2 separate regions of the Homo sapiens genome follow, and region 2 is linked to region 1. A link means that fine-mapping ties the variant in region 1 to the expression of a gene that starts in the linked region. Tissue or cell type: whole blood. Region 1 holds a variant in brackets; the other region holds the start of a gene. All regions are shown on one strand. Distances are between the middles of the regions. Region 1 has its middle 21 kb from the start of MIR4633. Region 2 holds the start of ISOC1 (isochorismatase domain containing 1).

The links.
Region 2: ISOC1 starts here. The variant in region 1 is fine-mapped to the expression of ISOC1 in whole blood (TOPMed, PIP 0.93).

What each region holds. Positions count from the first base shown.
Region 1 is chr5:129,116,268-129,121,650 of GRCh38, forward strand. No RefSeq gene overlaps it. Among named protein-coding and RNA genes, the nearest start is that of MIR4633, 21 kb to the left of the region's middle. The variant TATCTG/T (reference allele first, on the strand shown) is at 2,083.
Region 2 is chr5:129,092,660-129,098,042 of GRCh38, forward strand. It overlaps ISOC1 (isochorismatase domain containing 1), which reads left to right and starts at 2,090. Exons shown (of 5, transcript NM_016048.2): 1 at 2,090-2,416. The coding sequence starts at 2,108. MIR4633 (microRNA 4633) reads left to right here and starts at 5,029; the gene lies at 5,029-5,107. It overlaps LOC124901060 (a long non-coding RNA gene), which reads right to left and starts at 4,120. Exons shown (of 2, transcript XR_007058926.1): 1 at 3,890-4,120; 2 at 267-2,740. RefSeq lists a silencer at 1,708-2,487.

The sequences.
Region 1 (5,383 bases):
TTGGGGAAATGGCTAAAATATATGAAAATTAGTCATTTTCATTATTAATTTTGAATTAATTTTCCCACATCATTAAATTGATTAGTGCTTCCTTAGTCCTCTATAGAGCATTCTTTCACCATGTAAACTTTGATTTAAAATATTTTAAAAATCATTAAGCTACCATAATGAGATTTATCAATTACCTAGATATGATTGAACTGAGTTTTTTAAATATGTGGAGTTGGCTTTCAGAATTTTTATGTCATATTGCTTTCCTTTAAGTTGTTCCTAAGTTTTACTTACTGTACCTTAACAGTAGACCATCTTATCAAGAAACCTTATTTCTGGAAGACAGGCTCCTTGATATACGGTAAGAGAGTAGTTCTTAAATGTTCATGCACACACACACACACACACACACACACACACACACACCTGTGAGATGATGGATATGTTAATTAGCTTTGCTGTGGCAATTATTTTACAGTATATATCATATATCAAAACAGCACACACCCTAAATATTTGCAGTGTTTGTCAATTATTTCTCAGTAATGCTGGAAAAAAATTCAGCATTGCATTTATATACTTAAAGATTTTTGACCTGCAGTATGTAAACCTATTAATTCCTATTGGAGAGATTATAATCTTGATTTGCTTGCTATAGGAAACAATTCTGAAATGGACCCCAAGAGTCCCACTTCTCTGGTATACACACACCTCCTCCCGATTATGCAATCAAATGCTAATCTAGGTACCTAGGTAACAGGTGTGGAGAGTTTTTGCTGAGGTAATTAAGGTCTCAAAGCAGTTTACCTTAAAATAGGGAGACTAGCTTGGTAGTCCTAAGCTAATCAGCTGAGCCTTTAAAAGGGACTGGGCTCTAGCTGGCGAAAGAGATTCTAAGAGTGAGAGGTCTCCGGCAGGAGAGAGATTCTCCCTTGCTGACTTTGAAGATGTAAGAGACCACATGGTAAAGATGTGAGGATCCTATCATTTGGAAGCAGGCCTTTGCCAGCAAGGAAGCAGGGACCTAAGTCGTACAACCACCATCACTTAATTCAGCAAACAATGTGAAGGAGCTTGAAAAAGAGATTCTTCCCCAGAGCCACCAGATAGAAGTGAGGTCTGGCTGACATCTTGATTTCCGCCTGTAAGACTCTGAGCAGAGAATCGCCATGCTGTGCCTGTACTTCCGACCTACAGAACCATGAGGTAATCAATTTGTGTTTTAAGCTAATAAATTTGTGGTAATTTGCTATGCAGCAATAAAAAATGAATACTTTTGTATTTGGCTTTTTAAAAAAATGGCAATCATTTTTATTTGGAGAGAGCTGTCTTACTAAACACGCAGGACTTCAGGTGGATATTATCAGGCTCACTTAGTGTTTGTAATAAAATGAACTTTTTTCCCCAATTAAATAAAAGCATTGTTTTTGAAATTAGTCCTTGCCAGAATACTGGGTTTACTCATTGATTTTTAAAATTTTAATAGCATAACAGGCAAGGGTGTTTTAAGAAAACAAGAGTGTGGAACTGTATTGTGAAAAGCAAGAGTTTCCTATTCCTTCCCTTTGCTACCCTACCCTTATTCTTATTCCCTGGAAGAAACCACTCTAACAGCCTTTTTGTCTTCCTCTGCCAGCTGCCTTCATAACTGAATAATATGCTTATGAAAGGTGTTATTTAAACTTTTAGGTAATGTCTACTAATTGTTTCCCCTGGAAGATCAGGATTTTGGCTTACTTACATTATCTTATCTCCACATTGCTCCTCCTGCATGTATCATCATTCATGCAGTTTAGTTATATTTTCAGTTGTACTATCTATGTTATTTGGTAGAATCGACCTGTCTTTCTTGTCCTGGACATGGACATCTTTGTGGACTGTCCATCTGCCTACCACAGACAATAACTGAAATCTCCCTGAAGGTTCAGGTCCCAAGTCGGGCTCCTTATCACTGGTTTCCTGGTATGCGCTCCCCTCTCCAGCATTCTTTAAGTCCTGGATTCAGAGAGTGAGAGAAATGTCACAGCACAGGTGATAACTGCAGAACAGGAAAGGGCAGAAACCTCCTCCCCTAAAGAGAAGGATAATTCT[TATCTG/T]AGGTGTGTAAAATCAAACGTCTGTATTTACTGAACTGAACTCTCTAGCCCTGTGTTTCTACTGATGTGGAAAACATAGCTAAATATAATCACTCCAAGATCTCATTGAGTTTCTTTTGGGGTAAATAGCTTTGTTCTTCAGAGGCTTATTTGCTGACTGGCCCTTGGTCTTTGGCTTTTCTCCAAATGTCCAGTCTTCACAGGTTTCTGGTTACAGACCCTGTCATACTGCTTGAATTGTGTATTCCCCTTGCCTCCCCAGTTTCATATTTTTACAGCTCACTCTGCCTTTTGTTAACCACAGATTTTCTCTAGGGCCTCTGGCCTTTTCTCAGCCTTATTCAAACTTTGGAGTTTGGGAAGATTTGGGATTATCTCCTGAACCAGCCTGGAGCTGAGAGGGGAGAAGTGTAAGGAAGGATGCTCTGGGCTCTGTGCCAGGTCATCCCTTCCAAGGGGCTTTAATGAAAATTGAAGTATGGATCGGCTCTTAAGCTTTTTTACATTATCAGGTGTTTCCTCTTGCTCTCTTTCCCCAATTGTTCATTAGAAACCATATCAGTCAGGGTTGAATAAGAGAAACAGACCAGTAGGAGATATAAAGTAATTTATTGCAAGGAATTTGCTTACCCAATTTGAGGGCTGTCTAGACAAGCCTGAATTAGTATGGCAGGTCATCAGGAAGGGCAGGATAGAACTCTGTGGTAGAAGCTGACACTGCAGTCTGTAGGTTGGAACTTCTAGGAAACCCCAGTTCTGCTCTTAAGAGCTTCCAACTGACTAAATCAGGCCTACTAAGATTATCAAGGATAATCGCTATTCCTTAAAGATCATGAACTTCAGTCACATCCACAAAATAACCTCACAATAACACCCAGACTAGTGTTTGGATAGCTGAGAACTTAGCGCCCTGCCAAGTTGACACATAAAGCTGACCCTTGAATGAATTATTATTCAATAGCAATCTCTGCCTGAGAACTTAGAGTAAGACATTGTCTCAGTCCATTCAGACTGCTATAACAAAATACCATAAACTGGGCAGCTTATAAACAACAAATTTATTTCTTGCAACTCTGAAGGCTGGGAGATCTAAGACCCGTATGCTAGCAGATTGTGTCTGGTGAGGGCTCCAGTTCTGGTTCACAGGGCGTTCTTGCCTCTCACGGGTGGAAGAGGGCAAGACAGCTCTTTGGAGTCTCTATCATAAGGGTGCTAATCCCATTCATGAGGATTCTGCCCTTATGATCTAATCACCCCCTAAAGACCACCCATGTCCTAATACCATCACATTGGTATATGAATTCAACAGGAATTTGGGTGGGGGAAAGGAGGCACAAATATTCAGACCACAGCAAGCATTTTGACAGAAAAACTTAGCTTCTATTCCTGTGTCTAACAAGTCATTTTCTACTGTGTGAATCTTGGCTAGCTGTGACTGCTGTGACCACTGGAGTATGGGGGCAATGACACCATGTAAGCTCCGGGCCTTGTCTTTAAGAGGACTGACAGCCTCTGGGTGAACTCCTAGAGCCCTGAGCTATCATGTAAGAAGTTCCAACTCCCCTGCAGGAGAGACCATGTCTAGCATCTTCCCAGTTGGTAACATCCCCCTGCATAGTTTTTGTTTCCAAAATAATAACCTTTCTTGTTTATAGTATTTGTTGCCTTCTGATTGTGATAGACCTTAGGCCATCTGTCCATCCTCCCCTACCTGCTTGACCGATTCTGTTATCTATTGCTGTGGAATAGATTATCGTGAAACCTAGTAGCTTAAAGCAAGAACTTACAGAACATGATTTTGTGAGTCAGGAACTGGGTTAGAGCTTTTTGACTCTTCTACCCTCCAACATGGTATTGATTTGAGTAACTTGAGCTGTTCAGCTGATAGCTGGGCAGGTCTGGAGGGTCAGAGCTGGCTTTACTTACACACCTGATACCTTGGCAGGGATGGCTGGAAGGCTGGGCTCAGTTGGGTTTCCCCATCTCTCTCCATGTGGTCTTAGGGCTTCCCCACGTTGTCTCTCCTTCAGGGGAGTTGTACTTTCTTACATGGTATCTGAGGGCTCCAGGAGACCACAGCAGAAGATGCCAGTTCTCTTAAAGAGGAGGTGTGGAGCTGGATTGGTGTCATTGTCCCCACGCTCCAATGATCACAGCAGTCATAGCTAGCCAGACCCAAGGGAAAAGCCGGAGTCCCCAGTCTTTGATGCAAATCTGCAGCCATCTGTAATTCTCCTTATTGACCTTATCTCTAATCCTTTGCTCCCTGTTTACCTTATCCAAGGCACACTCCAGCCTCTTACTGTTCTTGAACATCTTGGGTACACTCTGCCTTAGGACCTTGGCTTTTGCTGTACTCCCTGCCTGACCCTATCTTCTCCCAGATATCCCCATGCTTACGACTGTCATATCTTTACTCAAATATCATTTCAGTGGACCTTTGCAGACTACCCTATTTAAAATTAGGGTCCTTCTTCCCACCACTACATGTGTAGTTCCTACCCACTTTTCTGTTTTGTTTTTTCCATCCCATTTGGTGATATCTAACGTATATTTTGTTTTAAAAATTTTGATTCTTTCCAAGTAAGTTTCTTTCTTTTTCTTTTTCTTTTTTTTTTTTTTTTTAAGATGATGTAGTCTTGCCCTGTGGCCCAGGCTGGAGTGCAGTGGCGTCATCTCGACTCACTGGAACCTCCATCTCCCGGGTTCTAAACGATTCTCCTGCCTTAGCCTCCCGAGTAGCTGGGACAACAGGCACCCACCACCATACCCGGCTAATTTTTGTATCTTTAGTAGATACAAGTTTTCACCACAGTGGTCAGGCTGGTCTCGAACTCCTGACCTCAGGTGATCCACCCACCTTGGCCTCCCAAAGTGCTGGGATTACAGGCATGAGCCTCCATGCCTAGCCCAAGTAAGTTTCATGTGCATGAGGATTTTTGTATGTTTTTTCACTGTTTATCCATATCCTCAGCTCCTAGAACTTGCATTTATCACAGAAGTTGCACTCAGTAAATATTTTTGAATGGATGGGAAGATTCAAGAAGCTTCTTACACCTTGCTTGCTTCTTGGCTTATAAGTTTTATCTCACAAATTTAAAAATACTCAATTTGTTTTTGAATAATGAAGTTCACCTAATTATGGTTTTTTCCCTAAATACCCATTAGGTCATAGGGAAGACGAGGAGAGATATTTTTGTGCTAAATGTCTCATACTCAGTAATAGGTGATATTTATGACTCTTCACCAGCAATACTTTGATCTGCATTTCCCCCATAGTGGTATTAGGTTTTTAT
Region 2 (5,383 bases), 24 kb before region 1:
AAAGCTACTGAGAGTCCTATATGAGAAAATTTTGGGCATTTGGTCCATAATATGATCTTGTCAATTAGAACAGTTATTTTCTACTTGTCATTTGAATATTCATTTATGGGGTCTTACTCACTTTTTCTGGTAACATTTATAAAAATTATCTTAATAATTGTATTTCTGAGGATAATAATTTATCACTGAAATGTGCATTCACCTCCCTTTTGCAGCCCAGTGATGCAGAGGTTGATACACAGTTGATATTCAATAAATGGTAAATGTGCCCATCAAATATCTATTTTATTAATGTTATTTAACATGCTATTACCACAATGATTGCACCATTAAACTAGGTTGTCAAGGACCAATCTCAGACAGCACAATATATATGGAAGTTGATTTCCTTACTGAAGGGTCAGAAACCTAATTTAAAAACATGAAAGGGAAATGAAGTATGTTGACTCACGGCCATGAGGGCCACGGCAGAAGACTGTGTAGATGCCAAGGTCCTCGCTGAGGATGTCTGAAGTCTAGGCCAATCTCTAATCTCCAACCTACTCTGTGTTAGGAGGCTTTACAGGGTGGAAGGAACACTTTTATTAGTCCACCCAAAATAGGTAGGTACCTTTTGGTAATCAGGTCTTGAGGGGGTACACTTATTAGCACAAATCAGCATATCTGCATATAGAAGACCTTGCAATGGAGTGGTATCCGGAAAAAAATATCATTTTGGGTCTGACGGGTTCAGACAACACTTTTAAATGGGATCTCTCAAAGTGTGATGAGAACCAGAAAAAAATGGCTATTTCTAGTAGCTTCGGTACAATTGAGCAAGAAACACCAAAGGATGGTCTTTTCATAACTTTAAAGCAGTGTGGTTCTCAAGTAGGGGGTATATTTGCCCTCTGGGGAATATTTGGCAATGTCTGGAAACATTTTTGATTGCCATAACTAGAGGGAGGAGCGGTCACTAGGCATCTAGCGGGAGTAGAAGCCGGTGATGCTGCTAAATATCCTGCAAATGCACAAGATGCCCCATCCCCAAGAAAGAGAAATGTCCATTCCAGAAGTCAACAGTGTCAGTTGGGAAACCCTGCTTTAAAGGTTATTTTCTTAGAAGAGGACAGCTTTAATACCTAAAATCTAATTTTATGTTTAGGCCCATGCCTATCTTCGCAGGACTCAATTCCAAGGAAATTCTGTTCATAATGCATGCTTTCTAATTCCAGTTAATTATAGCGCCTTACAGTGTGCAGAAGGCAGAGGATTGTTTTATTTGAAAGTGATCCCTTTTACTTACTTAAAAACAGATATCCTTAGTTTCAATATAAAGTTCAGATTTTTGCTTTTAATAGTATTTATATTCCCAAATCCAAGTCCTCCCAGAAATAGGTTGAGATGAAGGGAGGCCAGATATCAAATCCATTCCTAGAGATATTGTGTTCTGTGGGACCGAAAAAAGACAAAACTTGAACCTTGACTGGCCCTCTAAGGATTAAATTCTGCTGCTCTTCTTAGGGTATCTATCGGACTGTCCCTTTGGTTGTAAGATACCACTGCCATCTCGAGGAGGACTGCATGCTTCTGCACAGAGCCAACAGGTAACTCGTCCTGGCGGCTCTGTGTACCCAACCACAACCCTAGACTGCCAAGAACACTGCTCATTCGAAGGCGAGCGAAGCCGCGAAGAGGGCCAGCGTTAGGGGAAGGGTGGTACAAACCCTTGTGTGAGCTGCAGCACCGGGGCAAGAACAACGGGCAGCCCAGGCGGGTCTTGGGTCTGCGAGACCACTAGGCGTTCTGCCGGCAGTCAGAACCGCGGCAGAAAGGGCGCGAGCGGGGAACTGCGGGAACGCAGCGGCCCGGGAAGCTGGAGGGGGCGGACCCGGCCGGCGAGCGCAGGCGCTCCCTGGCTCACGCGCGCACCCCGGCCCCACCACCCACCCTTACGCCGCGGCCCGCCCTCCGGGGCGGGTAAGAGAGCGCGCGAGCAGCGGTCGTCAGGACACGCCCCTTCGCCTCCGCGAGCTGGCGGGCGGGCTGGCATCGCCGGGAGGCGGGGCCGCGGCAGCCGGCTGGGTGCGACTGGGCGGCCTCGGAGCTCGCAGACGCTCGGGGGAACATGGCGGCTGCGGAGCCGGCGGTCCTTGCGCTCCCCAACAGCGGCGCCGGGGGCGCGGGGGCGCCGTCGGGCACAGTCCCGGTGCTCTTCTGTTTCTCAGTCTTCGCGCGACCCTCGTCGGTGCCACACGGGGCGGGCTACGAGCTGCTCATCCAGAAGTTCCTCAGCCTGTACGGCGACCAGATCGACATGCACCGCAAATTCGTGGTGCAGCTGTTCGCCGAGGAGTGGGGCCAGTACGTGGACTTGCCCAAGGGCTTCGCGGTGAGCGAGCGCTGCAAGGTGCGCCTCGTGCCGTTGCAGATCCAGGTGGGTCCTGCGGGAGGCCGCGCGCTTCCCTGTTCCCGAGTCGTCCCCGTCCCCGTCCCTGTCCCCGCCTTCGCCGCGCTCCTCAGGTGCCCCGAGCCGCCCGGGACCCGGGCCCTGCGCGAGTGGCTGAGTCCGAAGGGCTGCGCGTCTTTCGCAAGTTCCGGGGCCGGCTGGGGAATGCCCCTGTCCAAAGGTGATGGTCACCAGCTGTCCCCGGCGGGGGCGTGGGCCTCGTAGCTGGTTTCAGCGCCCGCGAACGCCCCCACGTGTGTGGTCCTCGGTCGCCCGCATCCGCTTTTTATGCCAGGATCAGGTCCCAGCCTCCTGCGTAACCAAAGGGCTGTGCTGTAGTAGCTGTTTTTATTTTGGGGTGATGGGTGATGCAGAATGGGGGGAAATGAGATTGTGGGGAGTATTGGTCTTAGGGTTTGTTCCTAGAGTTGTGTTAACCACTTGCGGAAACGCAAACTTTGGGAGTCAAACCCATTCCCCCCCGCCTTCCCAGGCTCTCAGGTCCTTGGGCTTAAGAGTTCCCTAACCTTAAGCAAATAACCATTTGCTTAGCCTCCTCTTAGTAAAGTGTCTACTGACTTGATTACGTTTTGTCGTCTGCATTGAAAAAGTCATTTGACTCCATGATTGTAATTCCTTCTTGAATACAAATACCCAACTTAAGCTAGACCTTGAGTTCCTGGGCCTGCTGGCTGGGAAAGTTGTTCTACCTGAGGACTACTTAACAGCATTTATTTTAAGCTGTGCTCTCATGCTAGGCGGGTTAATCTTCCGCCCTCTTTAGGATCAGATTGTTCACTGGCGAATTTATATTTTGGAAAGGAAAGAATATAAGGTATAATTTAGGTAGTACACTGTCGATATCATTTCTTTAGCTGAGAAACTGATAAGTCATTTTTTCAGAAGACCAAACTGAAATGTGGGATTCGGGGATAAAAGGTATTTTAATATTTAAGTGTCATTTTCTTTCTTTTTTGTTTTTAGTTTTTATGGGCACATAATAGTTGTACATATTTATAGGAGACGTGATATTTTGATTCAAGCATACAGTGTAGTGATCAAATCAGGGTAATTGGAATATCCATTACCTGAAACATTTATCATTTATTTCTTTGTTCCAAATTCATTTTTGTAGTTATTTTGAAATATACAATAAATTATTGTTAACTATAGTCACGCTATTGTGCTACTGAACACTAGAGCTTATTCCTATTATCTGTGTTTTTTGTACCCATTAACAGTGCCATTTTCTGAGGATTATTCCCTAGTTTTTTTCCGCTGTAGTTGGCAGCTGAATTGATGATGTTTCCTGTCACCCCAACACCTGTGCCAGAAGTGTCCAAAGCAGGTACTTTAGCTTCGATAAAGTTCCTGCATTCAGAGGACAAAGTCAGAGACTGCACTCTCTGCCAGTGGAGAACCTGGAACTGGATACAGTGATCTGATACCCCAGAATCTTACCTGCTGCTCAGATAGGGAATTGCAGTTCTTAGGTGCTTAAGACTCCTCATTTTTATGTCTTCAAGCGTTTTCGTGTCTGACACCTCTCTGCAGCCTTCCTTGTCAGTCCTTTTACGTTACTGCTGCCAGAATACTCAGATGTTGGATGCACCTTTGAGAAGTCCATTTATAAAGGCTAGAATCCAAATACTAACTGCGGAGGTCTGGGACTAAGGATGCAGACTTCTTTATGAAGCATTTCCTGTTACGGCTTGGAGGGAGGCTGGGCTCTTATCTAAGATAATGCTATTCTAAACTAGGCCCCAGCTCTGTAAGAGTCCCCGCCTTCCAAGATAGGATTTTTATATTTGAAAATTTCAGGGCCTTGGTCTGGCAACTCTTAAAAACATTCTAGAAATTAATGAAATGTATGTACCTGAAAACGCTTGTACATTCTCAAAAGGCGTTATATAATTCTGGTCACCTGTAGCTTTTGCAGTGTTTTGCTTGGTATAGGAGATTATGTATAGTTCACTTTTTTTTGGTGAGGTTTAAAATAACAATAGCATTACTCTACTCCCTCTTCAGAAGAAATTTTTCCGCCAACTAGTCTAATAATTCTTAAGCATTAGTTATATTTTTGCATTTATATAGCTTTATATTTTTAATTCTTTAAAAATATTTTCTCTTCTATATTATCTCATTTTAGTAGTTATACTTTGACTTCTTCAGCCTGATGCCTCTCCTAGCTTAGAGGTAGATAAAGGAAGGGGATAGATACATAAATATGCACACACTGTGTATCGTATATACCTTCTGATACCGATTTATGTCTATATGAGAAGAGAGAGATATATATACACACATACATATATATGCATATGTGTGTATAATCTCAGAAAGTCATGATATTTCTCATGACTACTGTACACTATATTCTTTGGAACCTAACAGCATAATCCTAGAGACTTGGATGTTTTATGGCTGTAAGAGACCATACAGTTCATTCCACAACATGTGAGTGGCAGCTTTAAATGCCTGGCACAGTGAATGCAAACTTGGATTCAATTCTTGTTCCTTACCTAATAAATGAACTTTCACTTTGAGGAAGTGCAGAAGAACATAGGGAGGTGGAGGTGAGTAACTTGCTGCAGGTTACATGGCAAGTCTCCGCATATGCCTGGCTAGCTCCTCCACAAATGCGTGTGGAGGAGCTAGCCAGGCATATGCAGAGCGTCACTTACAGCCGAACACAGCACTACTGCTTGCATGTTTAATGAGAATTGAGCAGTCTGGAAAACAAGTCACAAACTTGAGCTCTTGTTTGTTCATTTGTCTTGGTGCTGCTCCTTGTTCTTTGGAATAAATGCTTGTCACTTAGGAAGACTCAAGGTGGCCTATCGGTGAGTCCATGTTACTGGGGATGGTTGGCCCCTTCTTGAAGGCAGGGACAAAGAGCACAAGTTTGGCCACATGTAGTTCATTGCGTAAATAGTGATTTATTATTTCTCCACA